Linked DNA regions of Homo sapiens: all the other regions are linked to region 1. Evidence: fine-mapped expression QTL. A gene starts in region 1. Each other region holds a variant in brackets. All regions are shown on one strand. Distances are from middle to middle.

Region 1 (8,111 bases):
CTCTATTAATTCTTACTTGTGGCCGGGCATGGTGGCTCATGCCTGTAATCCCAGCACTTTGGGAGGTCGAGGCAGGCGGATCACCTGAGTTCAGGAGTTTGAGACCAGCCTGACCAACATGGTGAAACCTCGTCTCTACTAAAAACAGAAAATAGCTGAGCGTGGTGGCGGGCGCCTGTAGTCCCAGCTACTCGGGAGGCTGAGGCAGGAGAATCGCTTGAACCAGGGAGGCGGAGGTTGCAGTGAGCCGGGATTGCGCCACTGCACTCCAGCCTGGGTGACAGAGTGAGACTCCGTCTCAAAATAAATAAATATTTTTAAAAATTCTTACTTGTTCATCATCGTGTATGGAAATTCCTAATTTAATCTCTTCCACTTTGCATCTGTTTAACAGTTTTTTCCTTAATAACTATTGTTTACTTTTAAATGGCTTAAGATGAAAGCAAAAATGATGCTTATAAGGTATAGAGCACAAGAAGGTCCTCCTCTGTTTTATGTCTCTGAATACTACAGGAACAAGGAACTGTAATGTGTGAGAAGAGGGAAGGAAAGGGGACTAGGCGGGAGCGAGGAGGGAACAACTGATAGCTCCTCTTCCCAGTAACTTGGTGCACACCAGATAGTTGGTGAATGTGACAAATACAGGGATTGAAATGTTTCCGTGACAGCGCAGTTTCTTCTCAGAACTTCTCCCAACTATTAACAACAATTGTTAATAGCTGGGGAAATTAATAGACAAATGTTTAATGAAGAAGCACATGAGCCTTTGTGATTTCTCTGAATCCGTATCTTCAGAATAGCTCATTTGATTTGGGTACTGCTGATAAGCTAAATTACCCTTAGTTAGCCAGAGCTTAGGTTACAAGATATTTGGAAGTGTTGTGGCTTGAAATGTGCTACAAAAGTACCTTTGGCTTTTTAGAGGTTTCCAGAGGAGTTCATATGTGTAACAGAGCTTGTCTTTTAAAAGAACTTGGGGGAGTTGGAGGTATTTCTTTGGTGAAGTGACTAATAACTCCCTAGTTCACCTACTGTATATTATCAGCTTTTATCTATTGAACTCTTAAAATTTCTCTATTCATTATGATATCCTTACTTCCTCTTCCATTGTTTCAGGCTTCAGATGAATTTAGACTGTTTGAGTCTTTATTATCCATTTTAAGTTAAAAGATTTTTAAACTTCTACCAAAAAGATCACTTCAGCCTTATTTAGAAAATGAAAAATTTATGGGAATAAACCAGTAATTATTTTTTAAATTCCTTAGTTTTATAAAGATTTGGATATCTGAAACTAATATAGAATATTTTTATAGCTTAATGGATTATAGTTATTATCATTCATGTAAATTTTTAAAACACATTTAGTGTGCTTCAGCTCCTACAATTATCCACTTATAATTGATCAACTAAATATATGCTGTCTTTTTTAAAAAACTGGTCATTAATATGACCATTTTATGACTGATACACTTATGTTCAAAAGTTTATTAGTGGCATAAAACTTAGCTAGTTTTGAATAGTTCTGAGTTTCAAAATGAAAATGTGCTTTTAGCCTATATCCTAATTTGGGGAATGGCTATACATCACTGTTCCTTAATTTGGGGATTCTGAGACCAAATACCTAACAGTGACAGGTGCTTAGACACCAGCCAGAGGCCATTTAGTTCCAGATCACAGGACACTCAGCAGTTCTAAATCAACCAAATGTTAATTTGGATTTCCCTGAATTAAGTGTTTAAGTGAGGTTTCCTGTTAGGACAAGGGTAAATTGTTTAGTTATCCTAGTCACAGGAAAATTTCAAAATACAGCCTGTATCAAACCTGGTTAATTGTTCTGTCTCCTTGTGTTTATCACTGCAGTCTGCTTATGTAACTGGTAACCCTGTCATCATTGATGGAGGCTGGAGCTTGTGATTTTAGGATCTCCATGGTGGGAAGGAAGGCAGGCCCTTCCTATCCACAGTGAACCTGGTTACGAAGAAAACTCACCAATCATCTCCTTCCTGTTAATCACATGTTAATGAAAATAAGCTCTTTTTAATGATGTCACTGTTTGCAAGAGTCTGATTCTTTAAGTATATTAATCTCTTTGTAATCTCTTCTGAAATCATTGTAAAGAAATAAAAATATTGAACTCATAGCAGGAGAATAGTTTTTAAAATAAATCTCGATTTGTTAGCATCTGTCTTAGTCACTTTGGGCTGCTATAACAAATTACCATAGATGGAGTGTCATAGACAACAAACATTTATTTTTCAGTCTGGAGGCTAGGAAGTGCAAGATAAAGGTGCCAGCAGATATAGTTTCTGGTTAGGGCCCACTTCCTGGTTTGCAGATGGTCCTCTTCTTGCTGTATCCTCACATAGCAAGAGCAGAGAAAAAAAGCGAGCGCTCATGTGTCTTTTTATAAGGACACTAATCCTGTTCATGAGGGCACTACCCTTATGACCTGATTACCTCCCAAAGGCCCCACCTCCTAATGTATCATATTGCAGGTTAGGATGTCAACACATGACTCTGGGGTGATACAAATAGGCCATTGCAGCATATACAATTAAAATGTAAATATGAAGAAAAAAGGAAGTTTTTGTTTTTTTGTGGGGGAGATGGGGGTTAAGGAAGAAGATAGTAATTTCAGGACTAGGCATGGTAGCTCATGCCTATAATTCCTGCACTTTGGGAGGCCAAGGCAGGAGGATCACTTGCGGCCAGGAGTTCAGGACCAGCATGGTTAACAGAGGCTAAGGCAGGAGGATTACTTGAGCCCAAGAGTTTGAGGCTGCAGTGAGCTGTAATCATGCCACTGCACTCCAGGGTGACAGAGCAAGACCCTGTACCTAAATAATAATAATAATTTCCACTTCATTTTTCAATATTCAAATATTTTTATATAATTCTGCATTGTTCTGTATGTAGATCCTAATTTTAAAATTTTACACCATCATAAATGAACAAAGGTAGGAAGGAGTTTGGCTTCAATAGCTTACAGTAAAAGGAGTAAAGGAGTTCAGCCTCAAAACGATATTGTTGACCTGTTATGTTATGAAAAATAATCCAGTGTTTATACTTAACGGATGCCATCCCTTATTATTTACTATTTTCTTAGTCTAACTAAACAATCTTTATTAAAATAAGCAATGATATTTGACATGGGCCTAAGAAATATATAGTTAGCTAACAATATTGTCAGTTAGAGGGATTTCTTTTCTAAATTAAGTACAGATTTCTTCACCAAACTCCAGGATAACAGAAAAGAGGACATAAAATTTGGACATAGTTTCTGGATAAATAAATGTAAATTTAAATATAAATTATGTAACAGGAAACAAACGAAATTAAAGAAAATAAATTTTTCAAGAAAAGTAAATTTATGGATGTTAATTCTGTAACATTGTCAGGGCAAAGTTTTTTGTTTTTATTTTAATTTAAGGGTTTTATGTTTGTTTTTTACTTGTTGCAACCTCAAATGACCAAATGGTATGATGCACACTGAGATACTCAATAAATGTGCAGTGATTCTTAGCCTTTTTTCCTAGAACTTTAATATTAACATGGAAAATTCTGAAATGGACAACAAAAAGATAACACTTTGTGTATGGGGAAGAATATCATGCAGTTGATGACGGTACATTAAAATTCACACAAAAGGACATTTTGACTAGCATTCAGAAAGAGTCCATTGATTATAAGATTATCTATGAGGTTTTGGACCGGGCACTACACTACCGAATTATGGCTAACTTTGGTTTGTGATCTAGACCAAGTCACCCAATCTATCTTGGATTTTAGTTTTCTGGTTTATGAAATTAAGGAGTTAAGCTAAATGACTTGGGTTTCTTTTCGTGTATCATAATCAAAATGCTGTAACTTCTCTAGTGAATTCATAGAACACTGACTCTTACAAGTATGTCATGAAATACTTTATGCTGTGAGCAGGTATACATGTATAATATATGTATAGCTATGAACAAATAAATTTTAAATAAATGCACAACGAATTCTACAAAATGGGCTCCAACATTAACAAATGATCTGAGTTAGTCTTTCTCACAGCCGACCATAAACTATAAAACATTTTTATAAACACTATCAGCAATAAAAACGAAGTAAAATCTAGCCAAAAAATTCAATGTTCTCCAAAGTCATGTTAATCAAATCAGGTGATATATTAATGAAGTACATATGACTAAAAGGAAAAATATATGTCATTCCTGTGGTAAGAGGAAGCTGAATGTCACTAGAAATTTTTACAAGCTTTAGGAGAGGAAGAGTTCCGTTTAGGAAAATAATCATTTCAGATGATCTGAAGAAGGGTATTGGATGGAACCTATCCAATAGGTTCATCACAAAAGAGGACCTGAGAGACAAGAATGAATGGTTTCTGACTGGTGGAGAAATTTGAGGATAATCTCCCTTGCTTGAAAAGCGGTGATTAAGATTGGCACTTGCTTACAGGAGTGAAAAACAGGTAAGGGGTGCGCGCGTCTTAACACACACAAGAGGAAATACAGAGAAAAGGAAGACACAAACATGAAATGAGAATTAAATGAAATAGAATCACACTGCTGATAGAAGGGTTAAAAATCTAAAATACAACAAGAAGGGCAGGTGTTAAGCGATAAAGGGGGGCAGAACAAGTCTTTTATCCGGCCATTTAATTGGTCACCTTAAGAAAGAATCCTATCTTCCCACCGCAGCTGAGAAGACACTTCTAAGAGGTACAGCTAAAAGGTGGAGGACTGATAGACAACTTAGAGGTTGGTTTCGGGAACGATAAAACAAGTAACGGGCTGCCCGGCCTGCGCCGCGGAGTCCCGAGGAGCCTGCGCTGTGCTCCTCTCGCGGTGTCTCGTCATCTCCGGGAAGACTCGGCGCCTGGGTCCGCGCTCTCTGGGTAAGCTTTCCGGGAAGCTTTCCCGGGAGCTCGCTGGTCCTGGCCCCAGAAGCCTGCGGACCCGCCCAGGGAGGATAAGCAGCTGAAAGACCGCGCGGTGCCGCTCCGAGGCCCCGGGACGTGGGCCCATGGTCGGCCTGGCGCCACCTTTCCGGGGGAAGCCACGCGCACCAGGCATCGCACGCGGCTCTGCACCCGCGCCGCCGGACCTGAAACCCGGCGGAGGGCACACGGGGCTGCCGCTGCGGGCCCCGGACCAACCCATGCTTACTCCGGAGCCTGTACCGGCGCCGACGGGTCGGACCTCCCTGCGCGGTGTCGCCCAGCGGGTTCGTGCGAAAGGCGGGGCCGACTACACGCGGTGCCGCGCCCTGAGACCGTTTATCTGCAGTCAACGCAGCCTCCCGGCTCAGCCTGGGAAGATGCGCGAATCGGGAACCCCAGAGCGCGGTGGCTAGACCGGGCTCCGCCGCCTCCCCCACAGCCCCTTTCCTAATCGTTCAGACGGAGCCTGGTCGACTTCGCCGGAGACTGCCAGGTGAGAGGCCCCAGAGACACTAAGGGTAAAAATAAACCCAGCGCCAGCGGCGGGTACCCTGTAGGCCTGCTGGACCGGAGACGCGAGCGAGGGGCCCAGCCTTTTCTGTTTGTACACCCGGTGACGGGCGCGTGTCTGTTTACTGTTGTAAGGTGTTGGCGTGGGTTTTCTTGCTTGCTTTTATTTTAGTTCTCAGATTAACCAGAGGGGGTGTTGCCTTTGTGGACTGGGTTAGCATCCTCGAGGTGCTAAGAATCATCGTATGCTATTGACTGAAGAATATAACCTTAAGACAGCAGTAGCTGCTGTAAGAGATAAAGTAAAACATCTCAGTAACTAAACATAGTTCAGGCTTATTTCTCGTTCATGTCAAGTCCATTCACGTGTTCAGCTGTTGGCCTTCTACTCAATTATTCAGGAACCCAAACTCCTTTTATATTATGGCTTTGCTATCCCCTAAGACCTTGGAGTCCTTAGTTTCCAGGCAACGGACAGAAAAAGAAAAGCTACTAGAGGATTGCATGAGGATTGTTTCTTATGGGTGAGGACTGGAAATCACATACTATTTATGTCCACATGCCATTGACCAGACTTCAGTCACATGCCACACTGACCTGCAAGGGAGACTGGAAATGTACTATGGACCCAGGCAGAAGAGTAAACGATTTTGGTAAACACATATCAGTCTCTGACCATCCCTTAAAGGGCAGACTGCATCTTAGTCATCTTTGTTACTCTTGTGCCTATCACACCAGAGAAACTTGTTAAGGCTTTGTGAGGCCGAGGTGGGCATATCACCTGAGGTCAGGAGTTCGAGACCAGCCTAGCCAACATGGTAAAACCCCATCTCTACTAAAAATATAAAAATTAGCTGGGCATGGTGGTGCACGCCCGTAATTCCAGCTATTCCGGAGGCTGAGGCTGAAGAATCGCTTGAACCCAGGAGGCACAGGTTGCAGTGAGCCAAGATTGTGCCACTGCACTCCAGCCTAGGTGACAGAGCAAGACTCCATCTCAGAAAAGAAAAAAAAGGAAATGAAACTTGTTAAGGGATGGGGTTGTTATGTGTCTAAAGTTGAAACTTAACCATATTTCATTGTGATTGCTTAGGAATCATTTATCATCCTTTATCATCCTGTAACTAGATTACAAGATCTGAATATAGGAACTATTTAAGACCGTTCACTTCTGAATCCTCAGCTCAAGGACTGGGACGTAACAAGAGCTTAATAGCTCTTGTTTGTTGAATGAATGAATGAATCATCAGAGAGGAAAACGAGGGAGACAGTTTGTCAATGTTGGAGTTAGGAAATACTGAGAAGGTGACATTTGAGTTAGATTTTGAATTTCTTCAAGTAGAAAAAGCAGAAATGAAACTCCAGGCAGCAATAGTAGTGATATTTTATTGTTGTTGTTTTGTTTCATGAGTGGAAATTTGGAAAACAACCAAACGTTTATAAGTCCAACTTTTCTTCATTCAGTATTCAAATATTACAATTTAACTTCAGGGTAGAGGAGGGGAAATACATAATCTTACAATCCAAATAATTTCTGTTGACTAAAAGAATGGCAGTGAAAACCTTGGCACTAATTTTTAACTTTATAAAATGTTATTTTCTGGACATTTTTGAGAAATTTCAATACAAAGGCAGTGTTCTGATCATTCATTGTCTATGATGATTTTGCACTGTAACAAGAAGCTAGAAAGATAGAAACTAAAGTTTGTAAGACAGAGGTTCCTCATCACTGCTGTTCATCAGGGCTTCTCAGGGATGGTTCTGCAACAAAATCACCTGTTATATTGGTTAGGATGCTTTTGGCTGCAAGTAACAGGATATTCAGCCAAAACTCCCTTCAAAAATACAGATGTACTTTGCTCATACATGAAGATGTTTGAAGGTAGGTGGGTCCAGGGTTTGTTCAGTAGCTCAGTAATATCAGGGCTCTATGTTGCTTTCTGTGTTCAGCTAATCTTGACTTTTCTTCATGGGTGAATGATGGCTGCTAGAATTGTCCCAAGAAACCCATCCACAATCCCAACTTCCCTTGCCTCTTTACCTGGTCATTTAAAGACAAAAAGAGGAGAGGATTTTCCTCCTCTCTCTCTGTCTTTATTAAGAAGGAAAATCTTATGTAATATGCCCCAATAGTCTTGCCTACAAATTCCAATGGCAAGAAATGAATCATGCTCACTCCTTAGCCAATAAGTGGCAAAGAGGAATGGTGTTACAGAGATTGATTTACACCAATAATGACTTATCCCTAGGGCGGGAGAAGGGTCCTACTGGCATACCTGAACACTTGGCATTTAGACAGGCCATAAGTCATGTCTGTCCCACTTGGGGTAGATTCGGTCTCTGTAGATTCTGATTTTAGTGGGCCTAGAAATAATATTTTAAACTTTTAGTAAGTATATTTCACTTTGGTGAGGAGAGAGAATAGAAAGGATGAAAGCAAGTATTGGGTCCCTTATGTAGGGGTAATTTCCTTTTATTCTTATCTCATTATATAGTGTTTTCCTTCATGAGTCAATGAAATTACTAAATCAATTAACCAAATAAAATAGCGGTTGTTTTCCTTTGGTAACTTGGCCACATGTATTTGACACACCTAAGTCTTTCAGATAAGGTAGTTCTCATTCAGGGAAACACTGTTAGTCATTTTAGTAATTAATTGTCT
Region 2 (8,102 bases), 22 kb before region 1:
GCATGGTGGTGTGTGCCTGTAATCCCAGCTATTCGAGAGGCTGAGGCAGAAGAATCGCTTGAACCCAGGAGGCAGAGGTTGCAGTGAGCCGAGATCATGCCACTGCACTCCAGCCTGGGCGACAGAGCAAGACTCTGTCTCGGAAAAAAAAAAAAAAGTATTATATATAGAGTCACTTAAGTTCCTCACCTCTAAGAAGTGGTTGATTAGGAGTATCCAATGCAGACATTTTGCATACCTCTATGAACAGTTCATTTCTTGGACAATCAGTGCTCTCTGTACTATTAAAAGGAGAGCCAGGCTGGGCGCAGTGACTCATCCCTGTAATCTCAACACTTTGGGAAACTGAGGCAGGAGGAGCACTTGAGACCAGGAGTTTGAGACCAGCCTAGGCTACATACTGAGACCTCATCTCTACCAAAAAAAAACAATTTGGAGGGCTGAGGCAGGAGGATGGCCTGAGCCCAGGTATTCAAGGCTACAGTCAGCTATGATGGTGCCACTGCACTCCAACCTGTTCAAGAGTGTGACCCCATCTCAAAGAGTAGAGCCTTTAGCATTTTCAAATCTAATCAGACTAAGAGCCAATTCCAGGAACCCCAAAACCAACTCAGGAAACTCATCCTTAAAATTTTGTTCCTCTAGAACCTCTCCTGTTACCAAAATCTGTCTTAGGATTTTCCAGAGAGACAGAACCAATAGAATATACACAGATGGTCACCAACTTGTCATGGTTCAACTTGAGATTTTTCAACTTTAGGGATGGTGTGAGAGCGATACGCATTCAGTGAAAACTTTACTTTGAATTCTGATCTCTTCATAAGATAGCAATACTCTACTGTGATCATGGGCAGTGGCGGCAAGACACAGCTCTCAGTCAGCCACGGGATCACGAGTAAACAACTGACACTGTTCAGTGTACTCTGTTCAATAAATCCCATGAGTCAGTCAACACCTTGTTATAAAACAGGCTTTGTATTAAATGATTTTATCCAACTGTAGGCTAACAAGTGTTCTGAGCACATTTAAGTAGGCTCGGCTAAGCTCTATGTTCAGTGAATTAGGTATATTAAATACATTTTCAACTGACAATGTTTTCAATTTACAATGGGCTTATTGGGATGTAACCCCACTGAAGCTTGAGGAAAAAAAAAAAAATATATATATATATATATGCAGAGAGAGAGAGAGAGGATGTTTATTAGGGGAATTGGTTTACACAATTAGGGAGGCTGAGAAGTCCCACCATAGGCTGTCTGCAAGCTGGAGAGCCAGGGAAACTAGGAGCGTGGCTCAGTCCAAGTCTGAAGGCCTGAGAATCTGGTCGGAGTTCAGGTATCCAAGGGCAGGAGAAGATGGATGTCCCAGTTCCGGAAGAGAGAGAATTCACCTTTTCTCTGCCTTTTTGTTTTATCTGGGCCCTCAGCCAATTGGATAGTGCCTGCCCACATTGGGTGAAGTAGATCCTTACCCAGTTCACTGATTCCAATGCCGATCTCTTCCAGAAACACTCAGAGATGTCCCAGAAATAATGCTTACCAGCTCTCTGGGGATCCGTAAATCCAGTCAAGTTGACACCTAAAATTAATTATCACAAACATTGTCTTGAGAGCCTGGCAGAATTATATTCAGGAAACTTATTAAGAAACTGCCATTCACTCAGCAAATATTTAATGAGCATCTACTATCTGCCAATTACTGTTTTAGGCACTGAAAGGCACTACCAATGTGGAACTCATATTGTAGATAAGAAAACAAGTAACTAATACTCTTTTAATACGAGCTAATCACAATGTAAAGGTGTAAAACATAGTCCCCACCCTTGAAGAAATTTAGTCTGCTGAGAATACTAATGGGTAAGCAAGTATTTGCAATACCATGTGACTTAGGCTGTTATCAAGTAAGCATTGTTGCTGAAGATTACAGAGGGATGCTGAAGAAAGCTACATCAAGAAGCATTGGAGTTGGCTTTGATTAGAGAACTCTCATAAAGTCTGTTCCAAAAGCCTCAAAAGTCAAAGGGCATTATTAGTAAAGCAGGAACAAAGCTAGATGTGATTACAGATTGTTAGAGCCAGCATTAGAAGTTGCTGAAACAATGAACAAGGAGGGACAATTTTACCATAGACCTCATATAGACACATGCAGAAACTAAGTCCAGTTTTTAAAAGAACATTAAAAAGCGCAACTTTTACCATCCATTATAATTAAATTTCTCCAACAATGTCTTCATCATAAGAATCACTAACATGTATTAAGCACCTGTGTGGCAAACATTGTGCTGATGGATTCACAGGCTTAGTCGTTCCTCCTCACCACATCCCTGAGGTAGGTGCTATTTTACCTTCATTTTACAGATGAGAAACATAAGAGGTTCAGAGATTTAAGTGATTTACTCACTTAGCTAGTGAGAGAGAGATATGGGACTTGCTCTAGTCTTACTGACGCCACAGTCTTTGTTCTTATCCCCTGTGACTGTTAGAAATCACTTAGCTCCATGTAACAAAAAACGTGAAAAACACTAAAGTTTATTGTCCTCACATAAGAAGTCCAGAGGAGTTGTTGCCTTGAGGCTGTCATCAGGGCCGCAGGCTCCTTCTCTTGCTGGTCCCTGTCGTTAATGTGTGCCTCTGGCCTCAGATGAACTCACTAAATGGCTGCTCTGTCCCACGGCATCCTATCTTCATTCCAGGCAAAAAGAAAGGGAGGAGCAAAAGCTAAAAGCCTTTCAGAAGGGCTTACTTTTCTATTTAAGAAGGAGGCCCTCCTCAGAAATTCCCACCTGCATTTCATTGGCAACATCTATGCTGCTTGGCCACCCCTAGCAGCAAACAAGGCTATGAAGTAGAGACTTTTGTTTTCCAGCTTTGACAAGTGAAAAAAGGGGAAAGTGAGTTGGATGGGTGCTGAGGAAACCAATTTATACAGTACATGTACAAGTAGCCTACACAATCACTCTGCTCACTGGCACTACAGATAAAGCACATGTTGCTATCCTAACCTAGAGGGCTCATGAGATCTAGTCCTTTCTTTTTGACCTTATATCTCTGTTCTCTTCAGCCAAACTGGGGTTTTTCGCTGTTAACATGTTCCCTTTTAAGCCTCCACCCTGTCATCCAAGTTTCACGTTCTCCCCAACCCCATTCCCAGTGTAGTAAAAGGCTCCTGGCATTCTGCCACTAAATGTGCATTAGTGTTAGAATATTCTGAGCATGAAAAAATAAAAATCACAACTGTATCTCAAACAAAAAGGATTTTTTTTTTTATTTCTCTCCCTTAAAACAATCCAGGCCAAGTGACAGGAAGGCTCCAGAATTTTCAGTGACCTGGGTTCCCTCTATTTTGTTGCTCTGCTATCTTCCACACGCAGTTTCCAGCTCAGCCAATCTCGTCTACCCTGGCACCGCATATAGTAGGCATAAACAAAACAGAGAAGTGGAGAGACTGAAGTGAAGGAAATGATTTCCGCATCCTAAGTAAGCTCTAAGGTGCTTTTCCACTTTTCACCTTCCACTTGGAATTCATAGTTCTACCTGAATTCCACTAGATGGCAGCACATACATTTATAAAGTGTATGGATGGAGCCACTAAACTCTGAAAGCAGGGAAACTACAAATCCCAGCATGCATTATTAAGCGCTTGACTTGCTTCCAGACAAAGGTTGTCTCAAGTTTGTTGCTCAAACCGAGTTCTGGAGAACGCCATCAGCTCGCTGCTTAAAGTAAGATTTCCTAATACTTTTGAAATGAAACTTTAGAACGGAAAGAGGGGAGGTTTAATTTTTAGATGTTGTTTTTTTCTGCACGTTGCCTGTTTCAAAATTAATCTGAGCAGTTAGATCAGTGTAAAGATGGGTTTTTAAAGAGCCTGAAACTCTGTGGTATGTATGTTTTATAAAGTAGCCCAAGAAAAAAGGATTCTTACGGTATCCTAAGTGAAGAGTTTTCTTCCTGGCTCTTGAAAACAATGGCTTCCTGAATATGCTGTTTGTGTCTCTGCTAATCAAAAATCAACATTTTGATTCTAACTTTTGGACTAAGGAAGCCAACATGTATGGTTTTCACATTGGATATATTGAGAGGTGCCTTGTTTTACCATTTCAGGCCGTGTTTGCTCTCATTTTCTCAAAGAAATCTGTTTTAGTTTGAGATTACAGTTTATCAAATGTTAAGGCTTTGACCCCAAAATCTGGTCCCAGAAAGACAGGAAGGCCAGCTAAGAGGAGGTTTTCAGAGTGC[A/G]TAGAAAGGCTGCTCTGTGCTTCGGCATTTGTTCTGGAAGTGCTTCTTCGGTTGGCAAAGATTCCTAGCAAAACCTTTGACTGGAGGCTTTACAGGGCCATACACCCAATATCACTAATGACAGTGTTGTAAAATAGCTTTTGTGCACCATGCTTAGGATTCAAGGAGGATAAAGTATATCTTTCTAAAGTTATACTTTAGAAACTGTCATTCCATGTTGAAATGATAAACATTCCATGTTTATCTTTTGTGTAAGAAGTAAAAAAGCAAAAATTCATTGCATCAAAGTAGGTCAGGCACTGTTAAAGCCAAGCTTCCCCATCGCCTAAAAAATGTGGACAAACTCAGAGGAAGTCAGTGATTATAAGCTGATCCCTGGAGCCAGTTCTTACATAATTGTGTTAGTCTGCTCCTCCAAGAAGCAGACTCCAAGATAGAATTAAATATGCATGGATTTTATTAGGGGAAATGCTGTTGTGAGAGAGAATGAGGAGAGAACTAGGTAAGGCTGTGAGAGCCATCAGACCTCGATGCAAGTCCACCCGCGAGGGAGGAAAAGAAGGAAACCAGGTTGAGTGGAAGCATCCCAGACAGCTGTGCAGTCTAAGAGAACTTCAGCAAGGTAATAAGGAGCTTCTCTAGCCAGTCATCCGTTGGGGAGGAGGTCTATGTCTCCCAGAAATGAGTCTGCCTTAGTAAGCATGCATGCTCAGGCACTGGCTTGTAACGGCCCCGAGAAGGTGGCCTCAGCACAAACCCAGAGAGGCAGCAGCAGCTGCGCCTCATTGTCCATTACTTCCTGGGGTCAGCGGTCTGCGAGGCACAGGCTCCTGGTGCCACAGTGGGGATTTAGAGAGGCCCGCAGGGCTTTGAGTACCATGAGACAATGCCATGAGATCTTCCCTTGGACCTGCAACAAGAAGGCCTAGGTTTGAATTCATAGCTGCAAAACACTGGGCAAATAACATTTCTTTGAAATTAGCCACGTTGGTGATCAGGTCCTACCTATCTCATCTCTGAAACACTTCTCCAATCCACCTATCTCTCCATCCCTGCTATTTTCTCCAGCCCTGCTATTTCACCAGCGCCCCCACTAGATAACCCTAGCAGCCTCCTAATGGCACCCCATGCTCCTGCCCAGGTATGTTCTCCACAGCAGTCCTTCCAAAATACGAATCTGATCATTTCACACCCTTTCCATAAATCCTTCAGTGGCTGTTGCCTATAGGAGTAACTTGCCCTTCACCATGTGGACCTTGGACCAAGTGTGGAGGTTTGAAATGGAAGAGCATATTGGGTATAAAAAAAAAAAAGTTTGGCTAAAGAGAGAACTGAAATAAGTTCAAAGAGAAAGGACTAGGTAATATAAGCCCTTTAGGCAAGGCTATCAACCTGTACAAAATCAGGCAGATAATGGAACAGAGTGATTGTGTAGGCTAGTTTGCATGTACTGTAAGTTGGTTCATCAACACCATCCAACTCACTTTCTCCTATTCTTCACTTTATCAAAGCTGGAAACAAAAGTCTCAACTTCCAACCTCTTTGCAGCTAGGAGTGGCCAAGTAGCATAGATCTGGTGAATGAACTGCAGGTGGGAATTTCTGAGAAGGTTTCCTTCTTAAATAGAAAGGTGAGACCTCTCTGAAAGCCTTTTGGCTTTTGCTCCTCCCTTTCTTTTTGCCTGAAATGTGGATATGATGCCTTGGACAAAGCAGCCACTTTGTGAGTTCGTATGAGGTCAGAGGCACACATTAATGACAGAGCCCAGCAAGACTTGGAGCCTGTGTCCTTGAAGACAGCCTCATTTGATGGTCATTTGGCTCTTCTCCACCCCCAGCCTCACTACTAGCTCTTTCTCTCACTTTGTGATCTATAATCCAAGCACTGGTGAAATATCTCATGCACATGAGCCCCGGTGTCAGTGTTTCTCAATCATTTAGAAATTACTGATTATGCCTGTTAATGTGTTACTACTGCATGCTTAAACTTTATAAGAGGATCGGCAGCATTGTGGGCTGGACTGTTCACATAGCAAGAGTCTGGAAGTCTAAGTTTAGTTCTGGCTTTCCCATTGACTGGCTCTATGACATTGGGCATGTTTCAGCAGTTTCCTCATCTGTAAAATGGGAGTATTGGATGTGATTTGATTTTTCCATCCTTTTTTTTTTCGATGAATATCTGAGACCAACTATGAAATCTTTTCAAGAGAAAAAAAATCATAAGCAATTGATAGTGCAAACCTCAACAAAAGTTTATGGAAGAGAAATCAAGAAGCAGCCCTGAGTAGTAAGGACACAAATAATGTCATAGCAATGTGTGCAGGGGTCATGGAGAGAGTGATGGTGGTAGTGAGGAAACTCAGCACCAGAGGCTGTCCTCTCCAGGTACTGAAGGAAGGATAAGGTAGGTTAAAGTGCAATATCTGGGCTGGGCACAGTGGCTCAGGCCTGTAATCTCAGCACTTTGGAAGGCTGAGGCAGGTGGATTGCCTGAGGTCAGGAGTTTGAGACCAGTCTGGCCAACATGGTGAAAGCCCGTCTCTACAAAAAATACAGAAATTGGCTGGGCGTGGTGGCAGGCACCTGTAATCCCAGCTACTCAGGAGGCTGCGGCAGGAGAATTGCTTGAACCTAAAAGGCGGAGGTTGCAGTGAGCCGAGATCACTCCATTACACTCCAGCCTGGGTGACAAGAGTGAAACTCCATCTCATAAAAAAAAAAAAAAAAAAAAAAAATGGCCAATGTCTGTCACCAGTCATTACTTCAGTGGGTTATGGTAAATGTGTTTGATATACAAAGCTAGGTATGCAGAGTAAGCATTCTAGGAGAATTCAGATGATGGGACTACTTGCACAGAGGTGCTGTCTTCAAGTTCCTGAAGGAGCTCACTAAATTATTCTTAAAAGAGCACACTGAACTATTCATTCTAGATGTTACTGCCTGCTCAAGATCATGTTCTACAGTATAACCCATTAAACACACATGTCTTTAGATTAAACCACAGGTTCCATTATGGGTCGACTTGATGGGAAAGTCATCATCCTGACGGCCGCTGCTCAGGGGATTGGCCAAGCAGCTGCCTTAGTAAGTTATAAGTTACTATCTTTGTTGTTTGCCTACTAACTCTTGACATATTGAATTATGTGGACTGATGCCATGGTTGTTTACTTCTGCTCTGCTTTTTTATTTTTTTACTTTTGTGCTTCTGTTGTCTTAAGTTATAAAAATAAACAAATAAATAAATAGGTCCCTACTCCTGACCCCAGGCAGATGAAGGAATGAATACCTCATATTTAGTACATGACATCACTGATAACCATTGACTCTGAGAAACTTCTCTACTTCAGTTTCTCTGCATCATGATATATTCGCTACAGAGGGCAAACAGGGTTACACAGCTTTCTGAAATTGTGTCAGTTTAGATATATGACTCCAGAGTTATAAGACAGGTTACCTTGTTCTCCTGATTTATATCAATTTCTGTTACATTATGTACCCCACTTAAGCTAATATCGGCACCTTAAGTATAACAGTACCTTAAGTATAATGGCAGGGTATGGTTTGACATTTATGAAAGCACTAGCATACTCTTAGTAGGAAAAGTGTTGAAACAACCAATTTTTCTCTTATTATTTGGAGTTTAGTAACTCAAACTCAGAAATGATATATAGTCTCATTACAGAAGAGCAGTATTTTGAGAGTATTGAAAACAGCTGTCATTTTTTTAAGAACGTTATTTTGTTTGATATTACTTAAAGGGACTAAGTCAGATGACAAGCACAATGTATGTCACATTGTTCTAATTAATGATAAAAATAATAACAATGGAGAAGGGGTAAGACTAGATAGTTTAAAATTCTAGCTA
Region 3 (8,111 bases), 330 kb before region 1:
GACTGAGCAATTTATAAAAGAAAGAGGTTTAATTAGACTCACAGTTCCACATGGCTGGGAAGGCCTCACAATCATGATGGTAGGCAAGGAGAAGCAAGTCACATCTTACATGGATGATGGCAGGCAAAGAGAGAGCTTGTGCGGGGATATTTCTGTTTTTAAACCATCAGACCTGTTGGGGAGATCAGTCCCAACCCCCAGCCATGGGTACCCAAAGTCCGGCAGTGACAAAGGAATGAGAAAAGACAAGTTAAGAGTAAAAGCAGGTCCAGGGGGCCATCTGCTAGAGTGAAGGCTGCAGAAGGCCCAGAACACTGGTTTCCTGAAAATTTATTGAGTACAATCTTTTTGATCTAAGAAGCAGATGGTACGGGGTGAAACGGTGAAGGTGGGGGAGCATGCGTCATTGGAAACATGTATAGCACTGGCGGTTATGTGAATTTCCTTTAAGCTCAAAGCATATGTCTAACCACTATGATAATCTTTAACTTACCAGGCTGCAGCTGGTGGGAGCTAGGATAGGATGTCTGGTCACATTCCAATGCTTCAAGGGAGTGTTTCCGCCCAGAGCATTCTGTGTAAAGCCACAGAGCAGGTCATGCTCACTGGCCTGGGGGCACAATGGCAATAATGAGATGTTTCTCCTCAGGTGCCCCCTATGGTGTTCCAGAGGTGTCCTACACAGGGGTGACTGACTAAACTGGCACCCCATAAACCCTTCCACCAGCAAGATCTCATAAGACTTATTCACTATCATCAGAACAGCATAGGAAAGACTTGCCCCCATGATTCAATTACCTCCCACCAAGTCCTTCCCACAACACATAGAAATTCAAGATGAGATTTGGGTGGGGACACAGCCAAACCATATTATTCTATCCCCTGGCCCCTCCCAAATCTCATGTCCTCACATTTCAAGACAAATCATGCCTTCCCAACAGCCCCCCAAAGTCTTAACTCATTGCAGCATTAACCCAAAAGTCCACAGTCCAAAATATCGTCTGACACAAGGCAAGTCCCTTCTGCCTATGAGCCTGTAAAATCAAAAACAAGTTAGTTACTTCCTAGGTACAATGGGTGTACAGGCATTGGGTAAATACAGCCATTCTAAATGGGAGAAATTGGCCAAAACAAAGAGGCTACAGACCCCATGCAAGCCCAAAATCCAGAAGGGCAGTCAAATCTTCAAGCTCCAAAATGATCTCCTTTTACTCCATGTCTCACACCCAGGTCACGCTGATGCAAGATGTGAGTTCTCATGGTCTTGGGCAGCTCCACCCCTGTGGCTTTGCAGGGTACTGCCTCCCTTCCAGCTGCTTTCACAGGCTGGCATTGAGTGCCTGCAGCTTTTCCAGGTGCATTGTGCAAGCTGTCAGTGGATCTATCATTCTGGGGTCTGGAGGATGGTGGCCCTCTTCTCACAGCTCCACTAGGCAGTGCCCCACTAGAGACTCTGTGTGGGGGCTCTGACCCCACATTTCCCTTCAGCACTGCCCTAGCAGAGGTTCTCCCCCTGAGGACCCCACCCCTACAGCAAACTTCTGCCTGAGCATCCAGGTGTTTCCATAAATCCTCTGAAATCTAGGCGGAGGTTCCCAAACCTCAATTCTTGACTTCTGTGCACTCACAGGCTCAACACCATGTGGAAGCTGCCAAGGCTTGAGGCTCGCACCCTCAAATTACTCCTGAGAGCTGCCTCACATTTGGAATTTTCAGCCAAGGGAACAAATTCATTTCTACGTTTTAATTTAAATTTAAACCTTTTTTTTTTCAGTTTTACGTTACCTGCAGGTGAAAAAAATCCTAAGAAATATTCTTTCCAAATGCTCTATTTTCCCAAATAAAAATTTATTGATTGAGAACAATTTAGTATCTATTACTATCACATTCATGACTTCAACATTCTTTTGTTGAGCTCCTACTGTGTGCCAGATCCTGTGGCTGATTCTGTTTCTACAAAGATGCCTAAGATATGTTCCTCCCCTAGAGGAACTTAGATCTTATTAGGGGAACATACATGTATTAAATTATATTATGAGGTGTAAAGTGCTTTTAATAGAGGCACAGGGTGATGCGGATGCAACAAGGACAACAATAGCAGTTACGTTTGAGGTAGTGGGAGGAGCAGAAATATCTTGAAGAAGGGAGGGGATCTTCCAAGAAGAGAGAGTTTGCTTAAAAAGAAGCTATAAAAATGCAGAGCGTATGTGAGGATTTTTTTTTTGGTGTTTATATAATTCAAAATAAATCTGCTAGAAGGGAGTGAGCTGTTTTCTATGCAGATGAAGAATCAATGCCATTCTCTCTTTTTAGCAGTAAATTAAAAATACTTTTAAAGACAAAATATAAAAAGAAAAAAGATATTTTTAATTTTAGCTTGACATTTAAGATCCTGCAAATAAATTAATGGTGCTAGTAAAGTAGATTAATATTACAATTAAACAAACATCAAACCCAAATTGTGGGTTCATTCCTTAGATCTGCTGTACAACCTTCAAAAGGCATTTATTATCTCTAGATATTAGTTCCTTCATCTATAGAAACAGTCTTTTACTTTTGGAGATTCCATTTCTGTTTCTGAAAAGGAGTTATTTTAATCTCATGCATTTTTTTTAAACATCAAATGTGGTTCCTGTTTACTTGCTTTGGATTTTACAAAAAAAAAAAAATTAACTCACTTTTTGAATTATTTGTGTACTTGCTTTATTATAAATTATTAAGTAAGTGTTCGGGGGGAATATGTATAGAGTAAAGAAAGATGACTGATATGGTTTGGCTGTGTCCCCACCCAAATCTCATCTTGAATTTCAATTCTGTAACATATATAGACTTTTAAATAATTCATAAACAAAGTAATAAGGATATCAGTGAGATTAATGGGAATAGAAACCCTGAAACTTGGAAGGTACTTTAGTCATTGTTAGTTGTAGTAGATATTTTTGTCTGGAAATGGGAAGTGGGGAAAGAACTGGTAAGAAATTAATTACATCAACAACAGATAAAGCTTTGGGACAAATCATGTGGAACAACAATCCAGTTGTTTTATTAAATGAAAGTTGTAAATTAATCAGGTGCCACTTGGCAGAGGAAAGCTCTTTTAAAAGACATGTAGCATTATTTCCATCCTGTCCTGCAACTGAAGCAGAATTTTTCTAAGAATATATGAAATGCTCATTCATTTTTTTCTGAGTTTTAATGGGAGAAGGTTCAGACCCAAGCAACATGAGCCAGTGAGGAGGGGTGAGAATCCAGAGTATATGAAAACTGGCACAAACACACTGAGAAACCTTGAAGAATAAAACCATGACATCCAAGGCAGAGTGTACAAAGGTTATGGTGAACTTCCTTGGTTCTAAAAGTTGGAAGCAGCAGTAGAGGAACACTTGGGGATGCTCTGGTTCCAGGAAAACTGCCCATTTCCAGCTGTAAAAAGTAAAGTAGAGATTCCTCTTCAAAGACTTTCCTCCTCATCTAATTAGGAATAAATAGTAACCTCTCTTAGAAGCAAAATTTTTTCAAAGACCTGTGCTAACATTCTTAAATATCTGCTAGCCGTAATAAAGAAATCAATGTACTTTATGTTCTTAGCTCCCACAAGTTAGCCTAAATATTTGCCCTGGCATGCTTATACTCGTTCAAGCAAGCATTAGGTCATAGCCTGGTCCTCTTCCTTATTTGAAGGTGTTTTTACCTTTCTCAGCATTCCACAAGTTACTTCCTCCTTCCTTTGTTCTCCTCCGCCTTTGCCTCTTTTAAAAAGTTCTAAGTTACTAGCCAATCGGGACAAATACAGAATGTGAGGTCCTATTCCAGCCAATGGAAACTGGACACAGCAGTAGGGTGGATGCATCAGGTTATAAATGAGCCTGTCTCCTTTGTTCAGTGTACTCTCATGGCAAAACTGCTGGTGCATATACCCTTTCTGCAGAAAGTATACAAATGGCCTTGCTGAGGAAATTAAATTTATGTTCAAGTGCTATTTCTTTATGGCACCAGGGAACAGCATTTCAAACACAGCCATACCTTGGCCAATGAGTGGCTAAATCTATTACATGGAGTTAGCTTCTGAAGAAAGGAGGGAAGAAAAGGAAGAGCATGAAGATAGAATAAAGGTAGGACTGAGGAAAACAGGGAATGAAATAGAAGGAAGAAGAAAATAAAGGAAATTGAGACAGAAATCTCAAGACTATGGGAAATATCTAAATAAAAGGTGATGGATGCAGATTAGGAGTGCTTTGACTTCTTAACTTTGGAGGATACATAACAATGGCATACTGCTAACAACTAGATTTCTGAATAAAAAATAGCTTGATTTTTAGCATTTGCAGATTCCTGTGGCATTAATACTCTCATTATGGCCAATTTATAAGCCAACAATGTGATAACACTTTGCAGAAATACACGATAATACACTATTATTTGGTATTTTTACTTTATAGATGTAATATATGTAAATATCCTCAAAAACATAGAAAATAGTAAAATAATTAAGAAGTGATGAGATTTAAGGCTATCTTAACTTTGCTTTAAATACGTTTAATAATAAGGCTATGTAATATAAATTTTAATAATGGCTGTGTATACAACTGGCTCACAAAGCTTGAGAAAAATTAACAATTTAATTA[T/C]CATCAGCTTTTGCAAGCTAGCTTCTGCATACCACACATGATATTGTCATCCCTGGCAACCAGTTGCAGAATTTATTGACAGCCACTCAAAACTTCTTAAATATGAGGGCAAAGCTATGTTTGTCAAAGTAAAAATCAGTAAAATATTGAAGCAGAAAAGATCCATTTAAACTTGGTGAAATAAATTCACATTTTTTCTATTGTTTCCCACAAATAATGAAGGAATTATTTTTTAAAAATCCACAAGCACAAAGAGAATGGGAGAGGACCACATACCAGAAAAAATATGTCACCCAAATTTGGTAAGCTGGAAAATAGAGACATGAAAGGCAACTGTTAATAGCAGAGTGGAAAAATGGAACCTAAATACCTACAGAGGGACAGTTAGAAATTTGTATTTCCACCCACACATATTTCACACAGTCAGGTGTTCTCCTCTCCCTAACTACTTACAGGAGACAAAAAGGTTGTAGAGAGAAGAAGGGTGTGTGTGCGTGTGTGTGTGTGTGTGTGTGTGTGTGTGTGTGTGTGCGCGCGCGCGCGCGCATGTGTAAAATATAAGATAAAGTGCTGCTTAAGAGCTTTTTTTTAAGATTATACAAAGAAAAATCAGAGGCTGTCCACTGGAGCCATTATGTTTGAATTACTTTTGTGTACCCTTGGAATTCCGTGGTCTTTCTATCAACTAGACATCCTCCAAGCTGCAGCAGCTGAGTCTGCCTATGTTTGCTTGCCTCATTATTTCAAAAAGTATATTTTAAATGACTGCTGTCAGCTGGGAAATTTCCTATGCCCTAGATTTACAATGAAGCATAAGAGGCACTCTCTTTCAAAAGACACTCAAAAACAAATATAGAAGATATGCAAGCAAGAGAGCAACCATCATATTGTGAGATAATTCTTAATCCAGGGATAAGAACAGAGGCAGCACAAAGAAACTGAATCTGGAAAGTTAACTAGGTGTTGAGTAGAGTGGTGGATGGTGTTTTATCAGAGAAATAGATTATATGAAAACCAAGATTAAAGAAGAATACCTCAAATTCAGGAAATGGCAAGTATATCAATAGATCAGCATGGTTGCGGAGTAAGTGGCGAGAGAAAATGATACAAAGAAATACAGGGGACCACATTATGACTGACATTAAAGATCATGTTAGGAATTTTGGACTTTATCCTAAAGGTGATTCAAGGTTTAACAGGAAGAAGCCATGATTCACAATTTGTTCTGTACCACTGGGATCCCAACTTGACACTTTCCACCTGCTCTAGCTGCAGTTAACAGGGCTATGAGTACTTGTATTCCATCATGTTCCCCCTGTGAAATTTCCTCATAATTCACAAAAATTTAAAGCATTAAATTCCGTCACAGTGACTTAGTCACACTAAATTCTATTTAATTTTCTACTGGCTGACTCCCAAAGTTCATTGTATAACACTTAGTTATTCTTAAAGCATTTTGCAGAATGCTCATGTAAGGAAATTAAAGACCTATCAACAAAGATTATTGAACCAGCAGTGTGTTTGGTTGGCAGATAGAATTTTGGTGATTTCATGATTTTTGAAAATAATCTCTTGTTGTTATTGTAATCTTATTTACTGACAACTATGGAATTCTTATTCTCAGGGTTCCTATGGAGTGGTGGATTGTAGCTGACCCTCTGGCAATTTGACTTACAACACTCTAATTTTATGATATTTCTTGTTATAGATGATAGTCCTAAATTATCTATACAATTTGATTTATGAATATCCAGTATTTGGAAACTTTGGGGAAGAAACTGAATCTAAAATCAGAGAAAGCAGATGTATATGCCTATCCAGAAAAGCCAGAATGAGAATTCAAATTTGAGGACAAAGTCATTTACCAAAGTGGAAACTAGATTAATACGGAAATTGGTCAGCAGTAAATGAGGAGATTCAGGACAATTCAAATTTAAATTTGTATTTAAGATTTATATTTATGGATAAAAGTGGAGCGTGTGTGTGTGTTTATATTTATGGATAAAAGTGGAGCATGTGTGTATGTGTGTGTGTGTAAAACACACAAAGACATAGTGGTAAGAATGAGAATACAAATGCTGTATTCTCACTATTGTGCTGGTCATGCATTCATTTTAAGGCATCTCCTACAGGTGAGGCCGTGCTACATTAAGTTTTCTCTGGAGCTTCTTTTTGTCTTGGATGGGCTTGCAGGTGGTTGTGTATCAAACCAAATTACGGTCTACATATCATATCATAATGCAACTTCAGTAGATATTTCTTCAGATATGTTTTCAGGCTCTTCATTAGCAAGAGCCATATTTAGCCAAATACATGTCTGTGGGTGGGAATGGAAAGCTCTTCTCTAAATTGTTGGTGCAGTATTCTAGCAGAGCACTTTGTCTTTTTAGGGGATGTTGTAACTTTAAGACTAAGAGGGGCTGTTTCTGGACAAAGCAGTTCCTGAAAGTCCTGACAAATCATGATCCATCTCTGATTATCCAAACCTCTGCTCCAGGAGAATCCCTCTGCCATTGTGCATGACCAGCTCATCTTCTGCATCATCCACCTCTCAGTTTTTCCAGTGTTCCCAGGTTTCTTAACTGCCTGACCTTTATTTGCTAGTCCTAATATCTGATCCCATTTTATCCAACAAAACTTTTACCCTTGTAAGAAGCTCTAGACTTAATTCCTGCCAATGTGCCTTACTCTTTCCTGTTCTGCCTTCCCATTTTCTGCTTTAGATTTCCACATTGTGGATGATTGTCAAAGTCCAATGTAACAGTAAATGCATTACATGAGAAACTTAAAGTCATAGTATGAGCCAGAGAATAAAGCTGTAAATAAGAAATCAGGGTAGGAGATGCTGGCTGATGATGAACTCAAGATATTGAAGCTTGAAACCTCAAATAAAAAGGAATATCTCATTGAAGACCTGATCTGAAAAAAAATACCAGTAACAGAAAAGAGAATTCAAGAGGAACAAGAGCAAACCTCACAGAGATTCAAGTTGGAGGAACTCAAATTAACATTGTAGATAAAAGATGTCCAATTAAATTTAAATTTCAGATAAACATTTCAAATGTAACTAATTTTTATTTGCTAAATCTGCAACCTTAACTGAAATGGGATTTTAATACATCTCCACAGCAGCGTTAAAAACTCATCTCCCCTCTCTTTTAAATGTGCAGTCTTGGGTCAAAGAACAGTAAGGCTCGAAGAAAGAGGGATGAGCCGATGTCCAGCTACTATTACACCTCTTGCATTATATTGAGAGGCAAAATTTATAGATGTGGCCTATATCAGAAATTAATTTCAATCCAATTTAATTTTATTGACCATCAAACCTACACATGAATGATAACATGACTGACTTACAAAAGAATCCAATATAGAGATGTATAAAATTTAGCAAGCTTGCTTAATATATGACAAACTGAGTCAGAAAGATCTGGCTACATACCTCATTTTCACTTTAGCAAGGTGACCTTAGAAAATTTACAAAAG
Region 4 (8,111 bases), 140 kb before region 1:
AGTATAGTTTGAAATCTGGTAGCATGAAGCATTCAGTTTTGCTCTTTTTGCTTAGGATTGTCTTGGCTATTTGGGCTCCTTTTTGGTTCCATATGAATTTTAAAATAATTTTTTCTAGTTCTATGAAGAATGTGTTTAAAAGTTTGGTACAATTAACATTGAATCTGTAAATTGGGTGGTATGGTCATTTTAATTATACTGATTCTTCTGATTTATGAACATGGAATGTTTTTTCATTTGTTTGTGTCATCTCTGATTTCTTTCAGAATTGTTTTGTACTTCTCATTGCAGACATCTTTCACCTTTCGGGATAGCTGTATTCCCAGGTTATTTATTCCTTTTGTGGCTATTGTGAATGGGATTGTGTTCCTGACTTGGCTCTTCACTTGGCTGCTGCTGATGTATAGGACTGTTAGTGATTTTGGTACATTGATTTTGTATCCTGAAACTTTGCTGAAGTTGTTTATTATCTTAATAAGCTTTTGGGCCAAGACTATTGGGTTTTCTAGGTATAAAATCATGTAGTCTGCAAACAATGGTAATTTGACTTCCTCTCTTCCTATATGGATGTCCTTTATTTCTTTCTCTTGCTGATTGTTCTGGCCAGGACTTCCAATACTATGTTAAATAGGAAAAGTAAGAGAGCATCCTTGTCTAGTGCAGGTTTTCAAAGGGAATGCTTCCAGCTTTTGCTCATTCACTATGATTTTGGCTGTGGGTTTGTCATAAATGGCTTTTATTATGTTGAGGTCTGTTCCTCCACTGCCTAATTTATTGAGGGTTTTTAACATGAAGAGATATTGAATTTTATAGAAAGCCTTTTCTGCATCTATTGAGATAATCATTTGATTTTTGTCTTTAGTTCTGTTTATGTGATGAACCACGTTTGGTGATTTGCATATGTTGAACCAACATTGCATCCCAGGGATAGAGCCTACTTGGACATGGTGAATTAGCTTTTTGATGTGCTTCTGCATTTGATTTGCCAGTATTTTTTTGACAAACAATATTTGTCAAGGATATTGGTCTGAAGTTTTATTTTTTGTTGTGTCTTTGACAGGTTTTGGTATCAGGATGATGCTGGCCTCATAGAATGAATTGAGGAGTCCCTCCCCTCAATTTTTTGGAATAATTTCAGTAGGAACGGTACCAGCTCTTCTTTGTACATCTGGTAGAATTTGGCTGTGAATTCATCTGGTCCTGGGTTTTTTATGGTTGGTAGCCTATTTATTACTGATTCAATTTGAATATCATCATTGGTCTGTTCAGGGTTTTAATTTCTTCTAGTTCAGTCTTGAGAGAGTGTATGTGCCCAGGAATTTATCCTTCTCCTCTGGGTTTTCTAGTTTGTGTGCATAAACGTGTTTGTAGCAGTCTCTGATGGTCATTTGTATTTATGTGGAGTCAGTGTTAATATTCCCTTTGTCATTTCCAATTGTGTTTATCTGGATCCTCTCTCTTTTCTTCTTTATTAGTCTTATTACAATAATAAGATAAATAGTGGCCTATTTATCTTTTTTCTTTTTTCCAAAAAACCAACTCCTGGATTTGTTGATCTTTTGAATGGTTTTCTGCTCAGTTTCCAATTTTGGTTATTTCTTGCCTTCAATTGGTTATTTCAGCTCCAATTTTGGTTATTTCTTGCCTTCTGCTAGCTTTGTAGTTGGTTTGCTCTTGCTTTGCTAGTTCTTTTCAATGTGATGTTAGGTTGTTAATTTGCTATCTTTCTTACTTTCTGTTGTGGGCATTTAGTGCAATAAATTTCCCTCTTAACATTACCTTAGCTGTGTCCTAGAGATTCTGGTATGTTGTATTGTGGGTCTTATTAGTTTCAAATAACTTTTTGATTTCTGTTTTAATTTCATGATTAACCCAAAAGTCATTCAGGAGCAGGTTATTCAATTTCCATGTAATTTTGTGGTTTTGAGTAATTTTCTTACTCTGGATTTCTAATCTTAATGTACTGCAGTCCAACTGAGTGGTTGTTATGATTTCAGTCCATTTGTATTTGCTGAGAATTCTTTTATGTCTGTTTATGTAGTTGATTTTAGTGTATGTGCCATGTAGCAATAAGAAGGTATATTCTGTTGTTTTGGGGTGGAGAGTTCTGTAGGTGTCTATCAGGTCCATTGATCCAGTGCTGAGTTTAGTTCTTGAAAATCTTCGTTAAATTTCTGCCTCAATGATTGGTCTAATACTGTCAGTGGAGTGCTGAAGTCTTCCGCTTTTATTGTGTGCAAGACTATGTCTTTTTGGAGGTCTCTAAGAACTTGCTGTATGAATCTTGGTGCTCCTGTGTTGGGAACACAGGATATATTTTTAGGATAGTTAGGTATTCTTGTTGAACTTAACTCTTTACCATTATATTAATATAATGCCCTTCTTTGTCAATGTTTATCTTTAATGGTTTAAAGTCTGTTTTGTCTAAAATCAGGATTGCAGCCCCTGCTTTTTTCAGACTTCCATTTGCTCAGTAGATTTTCCTTCATCCCTTTATTTTGAGCCTATGGGTGTAACTGCATGTGAGATGGATCTCTTGAAGATAGCATACTATCAGGTCTCGCTTTTTTATCCACATTGCTATTTTTTGCCTTTTAAATGGGGCATTTAGCCCATTTACATTCAAGGTTAGTATTAATATGTATAGATTTGATATTGTAATTGTGTTGTTAGCTGGTTATTATGCTGGTTTGTTTGTGTGGTTGCTTTATAGTGTCACTGGTCTGTGTACTTAAGTGTGTTTTTGTATTGGCTAGTAACAATACAAAACTCTATGGTAATGAACTCCCTCAGCACTTGCTCATCTGAAAAGGATCTTATTTCTCCTTCGCCGAGAAAGCTTAGTTTGGCTGAATATGACATTCTTGGTTGAACATTTTTTTCTTTAAGAATGTTGAATATAGGCCCCCAATCTCTTCTGTCTTGTAAGGTTTCCACTGAGAGGTCAACTGTTAGTCTGATGTGGTTTCCTTTGTAGGTGAACTGCCCTTTCTCTGTAGCTGCCTTTAACATTCTTTCACTTCAACTTTGAAAAATCTGATGATTATGTGTCTTGGGGATGACCTTCTGGTGTAGAATCCTGCAGGGGTTCTCTGTGTTTCCTGAATTTTATTTTTGGCCCCTTTAGTGAGGTTGGGGAAGTTTACATGGATGATATCCTGAAATATATTTTCCAAGTTGTTTGCTGTCTCATCATCCCTGTCAAGGATACCAGTGATTTGTAGATTTGGCCTCTTTATATAATCCCACATTTCTGAAAGTTTTTGTTCATTCCTCTTCATTCTTGTTTATTTTCATCTCACTATCTTACTTCAGAGAGCTAGTCTTCAAGTTCCAGGATCCTGTTCTCAGCTTCATCTATTCTGCTGTTAATACTTGTGATTGCATTATGAAATTATTGTAGTGTCTCTTTCAGCTCTATCAGACCAGTTAGATACTTTCTTATACTGGCTATTTCATCTGTCAGCACAGGTATCATTTTATGGTGATTCTTAGTTTCCTTGGATTGGCTTTTGCTGTTCTCCTGAATTTCAATGATCTTCATTCCTATCCATCTAT[G/T]TCTGCCATTTCAGCCAATGAGTTGGTTAAGAACCCTTCTTTGAGAACTAGTGCAGTCATTTGGAGGACATAAGACACTGGCCTTTTGAGTTACCAGAGTTCTTGTGTTGGTTCCTTCTCATCTCTGCATGTGGGTGTTCCTTTAACTGCAGTGAAGATTGAGTAAAATCAATAGACTTCTTGACTTCTTTTCTGGATGTTTTCACAGGACCAAGGCTTTGTGCAGGGTAATTATTTGTAGCTTCTTGTCTTTGGTTTCACAAAGTTGGTGAGATACTTTAGGTGTTGAAGTTTTGGGATGTGATCCAGTGGGTGGCACTTAGGCATAATGGTCAGTAAGAGTCTCTTGCTCAGTCTTGTGGCTCTCCTATATTTCCTCACAGCTGTAGCCATGCTGCCTCTCTATGCTCTGAAAGTGTGAGCTCCTCTCCCACTTCAGTGCTGGCTGTAGATCACAGCTTGGCATTCCCAGGCTGCCCAACACAGTTCTGGGGTAATCTCAAGGTTAATGTTTCCTCCCCAACTTGGAGGCAGCAGAGGACAGGACCTTCACAGTGGTTGTGATGAGGGTCTTTTACTTGTCTCCTGGGGGCTTTGCTCTAGAGAGATACAGGTCAGCTATCTCTCAGTGTAATCAGCCCAAGTTAGGGGTCTGTGCTGTGGACCCAAGCTGGGGGTTCCCTGCTTAGTGATGAGCAGTGGGGTGGGTGGGACTCATGCAAGATGAACTGGCCTCCTCTCCTTGGGTCAACTGCTGCTTGTTGAAGTATGGATAAGGTACTTAGGGCTTTTGCTCCTTTGTTAGTCCAAGGGTAGAAGGGGTAGTACCACTGCAGAGGCCATGGCAGGGGGACTTTGGGTTGCCTCTGAGGGCCCCACCTCCAAGAAATGCAGAGCTGCTGTTACTGGGAGTGTTCAGCCAGTGGGGTGGGACAGCAGCACTAGTGGTATGAGCTTAGAACTCTGTTGTTGGGGAGTAGGGGGTCAAGGGCTCACTGGGAGGAGATACTGGTCTCCCCATATGGTGGATGTGGTGTTCTGTAACCTGAGGTATAGTCCTCAGGCTCTTTGTCTCTTCCCCAGACCAAGGGCAGCAGGGATAGAACTGCTGCTTTGGCAGTGGCAGAATGGCTGTGGGATGCCTCTGGAAGCCTCTTCACAAGAAAACTCCAAGCCACTACTAGTGGGTATACTCCACCATGGGTGGGATGTTTCTGCAGTTATGAGGTGGAGGCCCTGACTGGTGAAGAGTGTAGGGGGAAGATTCCTAGGGCAGAGGGGCTGGACTCCTCTCCATATGGTGGCTGTGGTGTGCTGGAGGTACCAGGGAGTGAGTGACTAGGCCTTTATTCTTTCCCCAGCCTGTAGGCTATTAGGGCAGTACCACTGCAACTGCAGTGGCAGAGGGGCTGTGGGTTGACTTTAGGATTTTCTCCTTACAGAAATGCTGGGCTGCCTCTGATTGAAGTGGTCAGGCAATGGCAGGGTGGCTGTGGTGGTGTCTCAGGTCAAGCAGCTCTGCCCAGTGAAGAGAAGTAAGCACCAGGACATGTACGGAAAACAGTCTGGCCATTTTCCCATATGGCTGCTGCAGTATGCTGGGGTTCCGCTCCAGTCCCTAGTCACCTTGGATTTTCTATTATTACCTGAAGGTATCAACAGTGAAGTCTGCAAAGCAGCAAAGATGTCAGCCTGCCCCTTTCTCTGGAAGCTCCATCCCAGGGAGGTATGGATGGGTTTCCAGCCCAAACACACTGGCAGAGATGGCAGGAGACCCTGGTCAGGAGGTCCCACCCAGTGAGGAAGAACAGGATCAGGGACCTACTGCATAAAAGCAGCCTGGCCACTTTTTCATAGGGCAGCTGTGCTGTACTAGGGGTCTGCTTCAGCCCCCAGTCACTTTGAGCTCTCCAAAGCCTGAAGGCAACAATGGCTAAGGCTGCAAAACAGCAAAGATTGTGGCCTGCCCCTCCCTCTGGAAGCTCCATTCCAGGGAGGTTTGGAACTGATGTCTCCTGGAAAACACTGGTGGGGGTGGTTGCAGACCTCAGTCAATAGATTCTGGCCAGTGAAGAGAAATAGGATCCAAGCCAGTGGGTCTTGTCCTGCCAAGTGCTGTAGAAGCAGGGCCTGCAAACTGTCACTTCTCAGGCCCCTGGATTCATCCCTTTTCTTATGGGTATGTATAGGGGTCTAACCTTCTGATTTGCTGGACTTGCAACCACTTTTGCTTGGATGCCCAGGTATCTAAGTCTCCCCAGGTTCCATATGTACCTGAGCAGCTGCTCTGCCAAGACTTCACGTAGCTCTGTGTGTCAGACTGAAGTCCCTGGTGGAGAGGTTCACAAGGAGCTCTCTTGACCCAAGGGTTGCAAAGATCCATGGGAGAAGCATGGGTCCCTGGGGTCACTCACTCACTCACCACTTCCCTGAAAGAGGGAGGCTGCCCTGGCTCCCTGTCACTCTCAGGTGGGCAGTAATCCTGCCTTGCTTCTCTCTGTTCCCAATGGGTTTAGCTGTTTTCCTGATGAGTCCCAATGTGTGTACCTGGATGTTTCAATTGAAGGTGCTGTATTTACTTGCCCCTTCTATTTCTCTTTCTGAGAGCAGAGCACACTAGCTGCTTCTAGTTGGCAATCCTGGCCAGCCTCCCTCAATCTTCTTTTTAAGTTAGTAAAATTCATCAACATATTTTGCCACTTCCTGTGTTTATCATTTTTTTTAATTTCGTTCCTCCTCTCTTTACGGAATATGCTTTAGTTAAGTTCTCTTATTTCTATGTCTGTGAACGTCTATATTTTACCCTCACTCTTGTGATAGGTTAGCTAGATATAAAATTCTAGTCGACAGTAATTTTACCGCAGCAATTTGAAGATAATTAACAAATATCTTCTGGCACATACTATTAGTAGTGAGAAGTCTGCTCACATTCTCATTGTCAGGCCTTTTAGGTAATCTTTTCTCTTTTTCTTTCTGGAAGATTTTAAGACTTTTCTCTTTATTCTTCATGTTCTCTAGTTTCACAAATTTGTGACTAGGTATGGAGTTACCTTTAACGGTCCTACATGCTTTTTGGGGTACACTTTCAATCTAAGAAGTCACATCTTTCTCAAACTTTGAAAATTCCTCAGAAATGATCTCTTTGAATATTGCTTCTTTATTTCCTTTATTTGCATCTCCTGGAACTTGTAGGGTTTCATAGAGTGTCTATAAGTATGTATGTTGCAGTCTTTGCAGCTATCCTTCATTTCTTTTAATGAATCCTTCATATTTTTAAATCACTTTTTGTTTATCTCAGCTACATTCTGAGCCCATTTCTAAATATTATCTTCCAATTTACTAATTTTCTATTTGATTTTGACCTGTCTAGAGTTTATTCTATGTGCTAATAATATCTTTTTTTCTTTCTTTCTACTGATTTTTCATATTCCCGTATAATTTTCCATACATGACATTACTGCAGGACAGTTCCATGGGTGGTGTTGAACCAACCCAGTTCTCCCCCATTTCTTACTTGTAGTTCTGCAGAATTAACTAGAATGTGCTGGACATGCAACATCCTGAGATAAGGAGGAGGTGGCCAGAAGAGCACAGACTCTGTCCCTGTTGCCCCTAGAAACAGTATATCCTTCATCGCTTCAGCCAGCGTGTCTTATTGTTCCCACGGTGAAAAATTGAGGGTGGGCTGGTTTCCAGGGTCCCTCAGCTGTGGTACAAGGGACCCTGGAAAGCAGCCCACCCTGGGTTTTTTACCCTGGGAGCAATAAGGCACTCTCAGAGGAGACTCCATCTGCTCTGAGCAGATTTCCTGAGCCCCCGGGGACTGGCTCATCATAACTCGTAGGCTTCTGTTGTCCCTTTCTGCCCATCTATAAGTAACAAAACTATGCAATTTGTGTGTGAGAGAGTTTTTTTATCTCACAAGACTCAGGTACATAGTAAAAGTGCAGCCCAGGATTCTGAAGTGGTAAGCAGTGCACAGTGAACCTGCTTCACAAGCACCAGTTCCTCATTCTACATCACCATCACCATTTTCACTACATTTCCAGTATGTAGGACATCCATCAGTAGACATTATAGTTTGTTTTCCCAATCTAAAGATTTTTTACATTTTTAATTATTGTAGTTACATAGTAGGTGTATATATTTATGGGATAAGTGAGATGTTCTGATACAGGCATGCAATGTAAAATAAGTACATCAAGGAGAATGGGGTATCCATCCCCTCAAGCATTTATTCTTTGAGTTACAAACAATCTAATTATACTGTTTAAGTAATTTTAAAATGTACAATTAAGTAATTATTGACTATAGTCACCCTGTTATACTATCAAATAGAGGTATTATTCATTCTATCATTTTTTGTACCTGTTAACCATCCCTACCTCTTCCCCAGCCCCCTACTACTTTTTCCAGCCTTTGGTAACCAGCCTTCTACTCTCTATGTCCATGAGTTCAATTGTTTTGATTTTTAGATCCCACAAATAAGTAAGAACTTGTGATGTTTGTCTTTCTCTGCCTGACTTGTTTCACATAACTTAATGATTTCTAGT

Alleles and levels. Alleles are on the strand shown, and positions count from the first base shown. SD is a standard deviation of normalised expression in the study named. Not every link is listed here.
For the expression in aorta of the gene that starts at base 4,855 in region 1, allele A in region 2 goes with a higher level than allele G (small effect, 0.38 SD a copy in GTEx).
For the expression in transverse colon of the gene that starts at base 4,855 in region 1, allele T in region 3 goes with a lower level than allele C (small effect, 0.32 SD a copy in GTEx).

The links. PIP is the estimated chance that this variant, and not a neighbour inherited with it, causes the effect.
Region 2: its variant is fine-mapped to the expression of SLC9B2 in aorta (GTEx, PIP above 0.99). The same link has a PIP of 0.9 or more in atrial appendage, esophagus muscle, tibial artery and tibial nerve.
Region 3: its variant is fine-mapped to the expression of SLC9B2 in transverse colon (GTEx, PIP 0.91).
Region 4: its variant is fine-mapped to the expression of SLC9B2 in lung (TOPMed, PIP 0.99).

What each region holds. Positions count from the first base shown.
Region 1 is chr4:103,073,505-103,081,615 of GRCh38, reverse strand. SLC9B2 (solute carrier family 9 member B2) reads left to right here and starts at 4,855. Exons shown (of 12, transcript NM_178833.7): 1 at 4,855-5,432. BDH2 (3-hydroxybutyrate dehydrogenase 2) reads left to right here. Exons shown (of 10, transcript NM_020139.4): 10 at 1,861-4,024. The coding sequence ends at 1,914. RefSeq lists an enhancer at 4,856-4,975 and a silencer at 5,086-5,195.
Region 2 is chr4:103,095,402-103,103,503 of GRCh38, reverse strand. It overlaps BDH2 (3-hydroxybutyrate dehydrogenase 2), which reads left to right and starts at 3,670. Exons shown (of 10, transcript NM_020139.4): 1 at 3,670-3,721; 2 at 7,230-7,321. The coding sequence starts at 7,250. The variant A/G (reference allele first, on the strand shown) is at 4,239.
Region 3 is chr4:103,408,375-103,416,485 of GRCh38, reverse strand. No RefSeq gene overlaps it. Among named protein-coding and RNA genes, the nearest start is that of LINC02428, 13 kb to the left of the region's middle. The variant T/C (reference allele first, on the strand shown) is at 4,626.
Region 4 is chr4:103,215,139-103,223,249 of GRCh38, reverse strand. No RefSeq gene overlaps it. Among named protein-coding and RNA genes, the nearest start is that of CENPE, 21 kb to the right of the region's middle. The variant G/T (reference allele first, on the strand shown) is at 3,559.